Linked DNA regions of Homo sapiens: region 1 is linked to region 2. The links come from fine-mapping of genetic effects on plasma protein levels. Region 2 holds a variant in brackets. A gene starts in the other region. All regions are shown on their reverse strands.

Region 1 (5,000 bases), not on the chromosome of region 2:
ATTATATGTTTCAATTTGTAGGAAATTCTAGAAAAGGCAAATCAAATCTATAGAAAGCAGATGGAGAGTTACCTGGTTCTGGGAGGTTTGGGGTGACTGGGAAGGCACACAAGGAAACCCATTGAGATGATGGAAATGTTCTAGATCATGACAGTGATTGCTTTTACATCAGTGTGTATGTTTGTCAAAAATCATTGAATCATATACTTATGATGGGTTCATTTCAATGTATATTAATTATAACTCGATAAGCTGATTTTTAAGAAAGAGAACTATAAACAAAATATTCAGAGTGGTAATTACTTCTGGAGAGTACACGAGGAGTGGGTTAGAAAAGGCACACTCAAGTAGATGTAATAGTATCATGTTATGTTCAAGTTCTTTTTTTTTTTTTTTTTTTTTTTTTTTTTTTTTGAGACGGAGTCTCGCTCTGTCACCCAGGCTGGAGTGCAGTGGCGCGATCTCGGCTCACTGCAAGCTCCGCCTCCCGGGTTCACGCCATTCTCCTGCCTCAGCCTCCCGCGCAGCTGGGACTACAGGCGCCCGCCACCACGCCCGGCTAATTTTTTGTGTTTTTTAGTAGAGACGGGGTTTCACTGTGTTAGCCAGGATGGTCTCGATCTCCTGACCTCGTGATCCGCCCGCCTTATGTTCAAGTTCTTAAAACAGTCTGGGGATAGGCTCATGGCTTTTCATTTCATCGTAGTATTTCATAATTTATATTCATGTTACTTTTTTGTATGCATGCATGAACTATCACATTATAAAAATAAAAGTGTGAGAGAGCTTAACAAATAAAATGTTATAGCCTTTATATCTGTGGAGGAGGAAACACATTTTAATCTGAACATCTTGTGAAGGCACTGGAGCAGGACACACAGGAAGAGATGTGATGAGAATCAACCTAAGACCCCAACAACAGATGAATCCATAAAGAAAATGTGGTGTATATATACAACGGAATACCATTCAGCCATACAAAATGAAATCCTGTCATTTGTGACAACATGATGAAGCTGGAGGACATCATGTTAAGTGAACCAAGCCAGACACAGAAAGACAAATACCACATGAACTTACTTATATGTGGAATCTGAAAAAAATAAGAAGTTGATATTATGGAAGTATAGCATAGAATAGCATCTATCAGAGACTGAGGAGGGAATGAGGAGGGAAGAGAGGGAAAGATTGGTCAACAGGTACAAGGTGCCAATTCGATAGGAGGAATAAGGTTTGGTGTTTTATTGCACAGTAGGGTAACTATGGTTACTAGTAAGGTATTATATATTACAAAATAGCTAGGAAAGAGGCTTTTGAATGTTCTCACCACATAGAAATGAAAACTGCACGAGACAATGGATATGCCAACCACCCTGATTTGATCATCACTGTACAACATATATATGTATTATATTGCAATGTCAAACTGTGCCCCATAAATATGTACAATTACAATGTGTCAATTAAAACATTAAAAAAACCAACAGATTAAAAGAAAAAGAGAGAGATGAAACAGCAGAGTGTATGCAAAAACAGCTTTACACCCTGGATTTAAAGGGCTCTACATTCTCATTCAGGAGATTTTTTTGCATTGGTCCTGAAACTTTACACTAAACAAGCTTATCCCCACACAGGCTTTCCTAAGCCAATAAATAAAGCTATGGAATACCTATTCGTTTTCAGCACTTTCGCTGTTAGCCTGGTTACCAACATTGCTCCCTTTTCCCTCTGGTTTTGCGTATCACTGAATAGTTTCTTTTCTCAGTCATACTCATTGAGCTGGATACCTGGACTTAGACATCATTGCCTGACAGCATCTTTCCCCTAATAGGTTACTTTCCACACATTCTAGTTATTCTTAATCCTAGACACTCACGGATTTAAGAAATGTTGAAAATTAAGATAGCTTATTCTCCTCCAATCCCTAATCTAGGCTTCACTTGCCTAGAACTGGTATCCCTAATGTGCTAAAGGTAGCAATGGGAGAGATTATAGGTGCCCTGATTTTGAGGGAAAAGAGGGGCAATTTTACAAATGCCAGAGTTAGTACTAATGGTGAACCCTTCTCAAGTGCCCTGAAGCTAATTTGCATATACTTCTTTTCTGTATTTCATTTTCAAATATCCCCCAGATTGTAATTTGCCGTGATTTTATTTTTCAGTGATTTCATGCTCATTTACTGGTACACTGAAAGTTTGAATATCAAAGCGTATATCTGTATGAATAGGTTGACCCTGTACATAAGTCATCATATGCAGCAAGGGTCAGACACTACACATAACCGGGGTGACAGCCCCATCAGTCCCTGATTTAATGACATGTTTGCATAATATGACTATACTAGAGAAAGTTTGCATAGTGGGACTATATTGCTGAGCAAGAAGAATGTGCCAATTAGAAACAATCCAGGAGACATCCCTATCAAAGGTGAAAAGTATTGTAGATGTATCAAAGATGAATTTCAGCAGGACCATAACCTGATGAGACTCATCAAAGTAGGAAACTGCCTTTAGAAAACTTCCTTTGAAATACCTGAATTCTTGAAAAAGTCCCTCAAATATTGATGTGTACTATCTGCAGCTTGTGGAACTGAATCAAACTATATTTAAAAAGGAGCATCTTTAATTTTCTCAGACTTCATAGAAAAGGAAATGGAGACTGGTCACTAGAGGGTTCTTCTTCCTTCTACTTCTGCTGAAGGGTAACTTCCGATATCAACTTCCTCAAACCTCTGATGAGCTGCTGCTGCTCGACTCTGAGGTGCATTCTTTTTTTGATGAGAGGCATCTCTAGGTACCATCCCTGACCTGGTCCTCATGCTGCCGAGGCTGTTGCTGTTGATCTGTGGTGAGTTGGGCAACTCAGAGCAGGGCATGGGATGCAATCATGCTTGGGCTCTGCTTCCTGAAGGGCTGTAAGGACTTCTTAGGACTAAGGTTCTGTCAGGTAATGCTCAGGGGTGCTCAGATCTCCACTTCCACGGAGGGCTCAGAGTCAGGCAAAAAGTTGTAGATATTTCAAAAAGCCAGAGTTTTCAAGAAAACTATCATTTCAGTTTTTATCTCATAGGAAGTGTTCACTGTCTGTCTTCCTTTCCATCAATAATTGTCTTTGTTCTCAGTGTTTTCAACAGCTGCCAAAAGAAAAATCTGTATAATAAATAGGCCTCTGAATTCCTTGCCCTTCTTACTACCAACGTTATTTCCTTTTATCCCTCTCTGACTCCCCATTCCCACAGTCAAACCTTAGAACTTATCATCACTCCTTTGTTTTCAGCATACATCCCCCACCCCCACTAAGTTGTGTTTCTAGCTCACTTTCTCCTGCACTCTATTTCCAACATGACTTCAATTACCCCAGGGCTACTTTTCCATTATCAGTAACTACACTTCATGTGCTCACTTCTCATGGTGCTCAGCTCAGATTCTGCAGCTCACCACCACAACACTCCCTCGAGCACACCTTCATCTCTCTTCCCCCATAGCACTCTCCTGGTTTACACGCCCTTCTGCATGCTTCACTCCTGGACATAAACAGCTGAATGGGATTTTTTTTTAAATGCACAACCCTGATGACTTATCCCCTTTTAAGTGTAGGACCCCCAAATCTCAGGTAGCCAACAGCAATGCCAGGCAATTATCCTACATGTTCACAGTCCATGTTGCTCCATTATCACTATTGCATACCTTATCCTGTCACCTCATACTTCTCTGTTCACTCTCATTGTGTAATCTTGCTTCATATTTCATTGAGAAAATAAAAGCAGTCAGAAGAAAACTCTCTCATCTTTCTGTTGCTGTTGACCTACTCACCTCTGCATTCACATACACTGCCTTCTCTTCCCCTACCACGAATATATTGCCCCTCATCTTGTTGATGACAAGACTCTCCACTTGTGCATTAGGCCCATGACCCTCTTACTTTCTCAAAAAGTTTGCTCCATCATCAATATGTTTCTTCATTCTAAATTATTCCCATAAGTATACAAACATGCTACAGTATCTTTTATTAAAAACAGCTTTATTGAAATATTATTCACATATAATACAATTCACCATTTAAGTTATGCAATCCAATGGTTTTTTATGACAATCACTGAGTGGTGCAACTATCACCACAATCAATTTCAGAATGTTTTCATCACCCAAGAAAGAACGCCATACCCACTAGCAGGCATCCCCAATTTTTTTTCCAACGCCTCACCTATCCTCACCCCTCTATTTTCTGGCCACATGCAATCATTATCTACTTTCTGTCTCTCTATATTTGTCTATTCTGGACACACACCCCATATCTAACTGTAATTATATATCCCTTGAGCAACATTTCCCTCATTCCTCCTTCCCCACTATTACCCAAGCTTCTTGTAACCATGATTCTGCACCGTCCTTCTATGAGATCAACGTTTTCAGATTCCACATGAGTGAGATAATGCAGTACTTGTCATCCTGTGCCTACCTCATTTCATTTAACATAATATCCTTCAGGCTCACCCATGTTGTTGTAAATGATAGGATTTCATTATTTTTTATGTCTGAATAGTATTCCATCATGTATGTATATTGCATTTTCTTTATCCATTAATTTTTTGATGAACATCTACATTGATGCTGTCTTGGCTATCGTGAATAGTGCTGCAATAAATGTGGGAGTGCAGATATCTCTTTAACACACTGCTTTAATTTCCTCTGGATACATGTCCAGTAGTGGGATGGCTGAACCATATGGTAGTTCCATTTTTTATATTTTAAGAGCCTCCATACTGTCTTCCATAATGGCTGTTCTAATTTACAGTCCCACCTACAGCATGTGAGGATTCTCTTTTCTCGACATCTTTGACAATACTAGTTATCTTTGGTCTTTTTGATTATAGTCATTTTCATAGGTATGGGGTAATATTTCATTGTGGTTTTGATTTGCATTTTTCTGTTGATTAGTGATATTGGGCATTTTTTCATATACCTGTTGGCCATTTGCATTTCTTCTTTTGAGAATTAGAC
Region 2 (5,000 bases):
CACCATGCCTGGCTAATTTTTGTAGTTTTAGTAGAGACAGTGTTTCACCATGTTGGCCAGGCTGGTCTCGAACTCCAGACCTCAGGTGATCCACCTGTCTCAGCCTCCCAAAGTGCTGGGATTACAGGTGTGAGCCACTGCATCTAGCCTTGATGTTTTTTTTTTTTTTTTTTTTCTGAGCTCCAGAGATTGGTTTTAAGAGAAACCTTTTTGTATCTTATATTTTTATTTATTGCACTTATATGTAAAAGGTATGCTAAATTTTTAGTATAGGCTAGCTGTTTCTCTATTTATTGCTCAAGGAGTAAAGTTTCTATTTGTATTCCTAACAGTCCAAACAAGGCCCATCATGACCTGCCCCAGCTTATCTTTCCTCCTCCGAAGTTTCTATTTGTAGTAAAGGGAATTAAATACTCTTGAATTACTGTAGGCTGGATTTGAAAAATACAAACTTTTTGGAGATTGAATTGAAAACTTTAGTTGGAGGTCTGTTGATAATATCGAGTGAATTGATTTGGTATATTAGACATTTTTTCAGAGAGAAGATTCCATGGTATAAATATTAAAAACCAGAGAGTATAACATTATTGGAAATTCCTTAATAAGTAAGTTCCAGTGTAGTGGTTGTCAAAGACCATAGAGCTTTTTGATGATTCCATGAGGTCAAGACTGTTTTCATAAAAATATCAATCAAATGTTATTTACTTTTTTTCAGTATATGACATTTGCATTTATGGTGTCAAAGCTGTGGTAGATAAAATTGCTGATGCCTAAGCATAAATCTTGGCAGGGAACCAAACGGTGCTAGTACTCAATGTATTTTTCATCGCTGAGCATTTGCAGTTTTTTCTTAAAATGTCACTTAAGAATGTCCTTGATGACGCAGTAAAAGTTAATTTTATTAAATCTCACCCATTGAGTATGTCTTTTTATACTTCGTGTCATGTAATGGGAAGTAAACATAAAGTTCTGCTCTATACCAAAATATGATGGTTCTCTCAGGGAAAAGCACTTTGGCAATTGTTCGAGTTCTAAGTTGCACCAGCCTCCCCTTTTTCATGGAATGTCATTTTAGATTGAAAGAATGACAGACAAACTATGTTTTCAGACTGGGATTTTGGGAGACATTTTCTTGAAAATTAGTGAATGAGGCTGTCTTTGAAATAAAATAACTGATAGTGTTTGTTGCCACTTTAAAATTTTGAGTTTTCAAGCAAAAAATGAGAATTTTGGAAAATATGTTTCTCTAACCATGAGCTTCACACCTTCTCATTACAGATTTTCTGATGAGATCAGTGGTAATAATAGCAAATGCGATAGTTGTTACTGTGTGATGAAATGTATCCAAATTTGAAAAACTTGCTTTAACTCTACTTTCCAAATGGCCATTTCATGATGTTATAATGTGATATGGTTTGGCTTTGTTGCCACCCAAGTCTCATCTTTAATTGTAACTCCTACAATTACCATGTGTCATGGGAGGGACTCAGTGGGAGATAATTGAATCATGGGGCAGGCCTTTTTCTCATGCTATTCTCGTGATAGTGAATAAGTCTCACAAGATCTGATGGTTTTATAAAGAGGAATTTCCCCGCACAAGCTCTCTTTTTTTGCCTGCCCCATCCATGCAAGATGTTACTTGCTCCTCCTTGCTTTCTGCCATGATTGTGAGGCCTCCCCAGTCATGTGGAACTGTAAGCCCTTTAAGCCTCTTTTTCTTCCCAGTCTTGGGTATGTCTTTATAAGCAGCGTGAAAACGGACTAATACAATAAATTGGTACTGGTAGAGTAGGGTGTTGGTGAAAAGATACCTGAAAATATGGAGGCGACTTTGGAACTGGGTAACAGGCAGAGGTTGCAACAGTTTGGAGGGCTCAGAAGAAGACAGGAAAATGTGGAAATGTTTGGAGCTTCCTAGAGACTTGTTGAATGGCTTTGACAAAACTGCTGATAGTGATATGAACAATAAGGTCCAGGCTGAGGTGATCTCAGATGGAAATGAGGAACTTGTTGGGAATTGGAGCAAAGGTGAGTCTTCTTATGTTTTAGCAAAGAGACTGGCAGCATTTTGCCCCTGCCCTAGAGATTTGCAGAACTTTGAACTTGAGAGAGATAATTTAGGTTATCTGGCGGAAGACATTTCTAAGCAGCAAAGCATTCTAGAGGTGACTTGGGTGCTGTTAAAGGCATTCAGTTTTATGAGGGAAGCAGAGCATAAAAGTTTGGAAAATTTGCAGCCTAACAACGTGATAGAAAAGAAAATCCCATTTTCTGAAGAGGAATTCAAGCCTGCTGCAGGAATTTGCATAAGTAATGAGGAGCTGAATATTAAGTTCCAAGACAATGGGGAAAATTTCTTCACAGCATGTCAGAGGTCTTTATGGCAGCCCTTTCCATCATAGGCCTGGAGGCTGAGGAGGAAAAAATGATTTCATGCCCTGGACCCAGGACCCCCTTGCTGTTTGCAGCCCAGGGACTTGGTGCTCTGCACCCCAGCAGCTCTGGCCATGGCTGAAAGGGGCCAAGGTACAGCTTGGGCCGTGGCTTCAGAGGGTGCAAGCCCCAAGCCTTTGCAGCTTCCATATGGTGTTGAGCCTGTGGGTACATAGAAGTCAAGAATTGAGGTTTGGGAACCTCTGCCTAGATTTCAGAGGATGTATGGAAACGCCTGGATGTTCAAGCAGAAGTTTGCTACAGGGGTGGGGCTCTCATGGAGGACCTCTGCTAGGGCAGTGCAGAAGGGAAATGGGGGGTCAGACTCCCTACTAGTGCACTGCCTAATGGAGCTGTAAGAAGAGGGCCACCATCCTCCAGAATGGTAGATCCACCTACAGTTTGCACTGTGTGCCTGGAAAAGCCGCAGACACTCAACGCTACCCTGTGAAAACAGCCAGGAAGGAGGCTGTTCCCTGCAAAGCCACAGGATTGGAGCTGCCCAAGAC[C/T]GTGGGAACCCACCTCTTGCATCAGCACGACCTGGACGTGAGACATGGAGTCAAAGGAGATCATTTTGGAGCTTTAAGGTTTGACTGCCCTGCTGGATTTTGGACTTGGATAGACCCTATAGCCCCTTTCGTTTGGCCAGTTTCTCCCACTTGGAACAGCTGTATTTACCCAATACCTGTGCCCCCATTGTATCTAGGAAGTAACTAACTTGCTTCTGCTTTCACAGGCTCATAGGGGAAGGGACTTGCCTTGTCTCAGATGAGACTTTGGGCTATGGACTTTTGGGTTAATGCTGAAATTAGTGAAGACTTTGGAGGACTGTTGGGAAGGCATGATTGGTTTTGAAATGTGAAGACATGAGATGTGGGAGGGGCCAGCGGCAGAATGATATGGTATGGCTGTGTCCCCACCCAAATCTCATCTTGAATTGTAGGTCCCACAGTTCCCATGTGTTGTGGGAGGGACCCAGTGGGAGATAATTGAATCATGGGGCAGGTCTTTCTCATGCTATTTTTGTGATAGTGAATAAGTCTTAGGAGATCTACTGGTTTTAGAAAGAGGAGTTCCCCTGCACAAGTTTTTTTTTTTTTTTTTTTTTTTTTTGCCTGCCGCCATCATGTAAGACGTTACTTGCTCCTCCTTCCCTTTTGCCATGATTGTGAAGCCTCCCCAGCCATGTGGAACTGTAAGTCCATTAAACCTCTTTTACTTCCCAGTCTCAAGTATGTCTTTATCAGCAGCGTGAAAATGAACTAATACATAATGGATCATGCATTGATAAAAGATTGATAATGTTTTTTTAATATACCAAACGTAAGATAGGTTACAGATTTTTTTCTTTTTTCTTTTTTTTTGAGATGGAGTCTCACCCTGTTGCCCAGGCTGGAGTGCAGTGGCATGATCTTGGCTTACTGCAACCTCCGCCTCCCAGGTTCAAGCAATTCTCCTGCCTCAGCCTCCTTAGCAGCTGGGATTACAGGCGCACGCCGCTATGCCCAGCTAATTTTTGTATTTTTAGTAGAGATGGGGTTTCACCATGTTGGTCAGGCTGGTCTTCAGCTCCTGGCCTCAAGTGATCTGCCTGCCTCAGCCTTCCAAAGTACTGGGATTACAGGCGTGAGCCACCGCGCCTGGCCAGATTATAGATTTTAACAGAGTATGAAGGGTTCCTTGATATGGTATAAGATTTCATATTGTAACTAACAAATAAGAAGTGACACTTGGTGAGTTTTGGTACAGTATCAAAAAATAGTATGCATAAGTATCTGAAAAATCTGTTAAAATATTCTTCCCTTTTCCAACGACATATCTGTGTGAGGCTACATTGTTTTCTTATACTTCAACCAAAACATTAGATTACTTAATGTAATCCACAGATTAGATCATATGTGGAAGCACCTTGAGAATTGTGCTGTCTCTGTTAGATCAGACATGGAAGAGATTTCCAAAAGGGGAAGGTTGTGCCACTGTTTTAGTAAGTCATTTTTTTTTTTTTGGAAAATGGTTACTTTTCATTAAAAAAATAAATTCTTGGCCAGGCGCGGTGGCTTATGCCTGTAATCCCAGCACTTTGGGAGGCTGAGGAGGGCAGAACACAAGGTCAGGAGATCGAGACCATCCTGGCTAACATGGTGAAACCCCGTCTCTACTAAAAATACAGAAAAAAATGTTAGCCGGCCATGGTGGTGGGTGCCTGTAGTCCCAGCCATTGGGGAGGCTGAGGCAGGAGAATGGTGTGAACCCAGGAGGCAGAGCTTGCAGTGAGCCGAGATCGCACCACTGCACTCCAGCCTAGGCGACAGAGCGAGATTCCATCTCAAAATAAATAAATAAATAATAATTTATGAGTTTATATTGTTTTTAATAATTTAAAATTTTGAAGTTTTCTTAGTTTTAGTTTCTGATATAGTAAGTGTCTATCTGGCTGTCTATATTTCTCCCATAAAGAAAAGCTCTTTGGCCAGGTGCAGTGGCTCACGCCTTTAATCCCAGCACGTTGGGAGGCCGAGGCGGGCAGATCACGAGTTCAAGAGATCAAGACCATCCTGGCCAACGTG

Direction of the effects. Alleles are on the strand shown, and positions count from the first base shown. The strength of an association depends on the size of the effect and on how common the allele is.
In carriers of allele T in region 2, the plasma level of the protein whose gene starts at base 2,734 in region 1 tends to be higher than with C alone (weak association).

Evidence for each region. A credible set is the group of variants that fine-mapping cannot tell apart. PIP is the posterior inclusion probability: the model's chance that the variant is causal. Protein levels are from antibody-based Olink assays in UK Biobank. Linkage for the fine-mapping came from a reference panel and not from the study's own genotypes, which makes the PIPs less certain.
Region 1: FCRL1 starts here. The variant in region 2 is the best candidate, but not a certain one, in a credible set for the plasma level of the FCRL1 protein (UK Biobank, PIP 0.56).

The regions. Positions count from the first base shown.
Region 1 is chr1:157,817,854-157,822,853 of GRCh38, reverse strand. FCRL1 (Fc receptor like 1) reads left to right here and starts at 2,734. Exons shown (of 11, transcript NM_052938.5): 1 at 2,734-2,847. The coding sequence starts at 2,817.
Region 2 is chr17:16,112,690-16,117,689 of GRCh38, reverse strand. The region is part of intron 18 of NCOR1 (nuclear receptor corepressor 1); the gene reads left to right. Among named protein-coding and RNA genes, the nearest start is that of SNORD163, 38 kb to the left of the region's middle. RefSeq lists a silencer at 3,867-4,064. The variant C/T (reference allele first, on the strand shown) is at 2,943.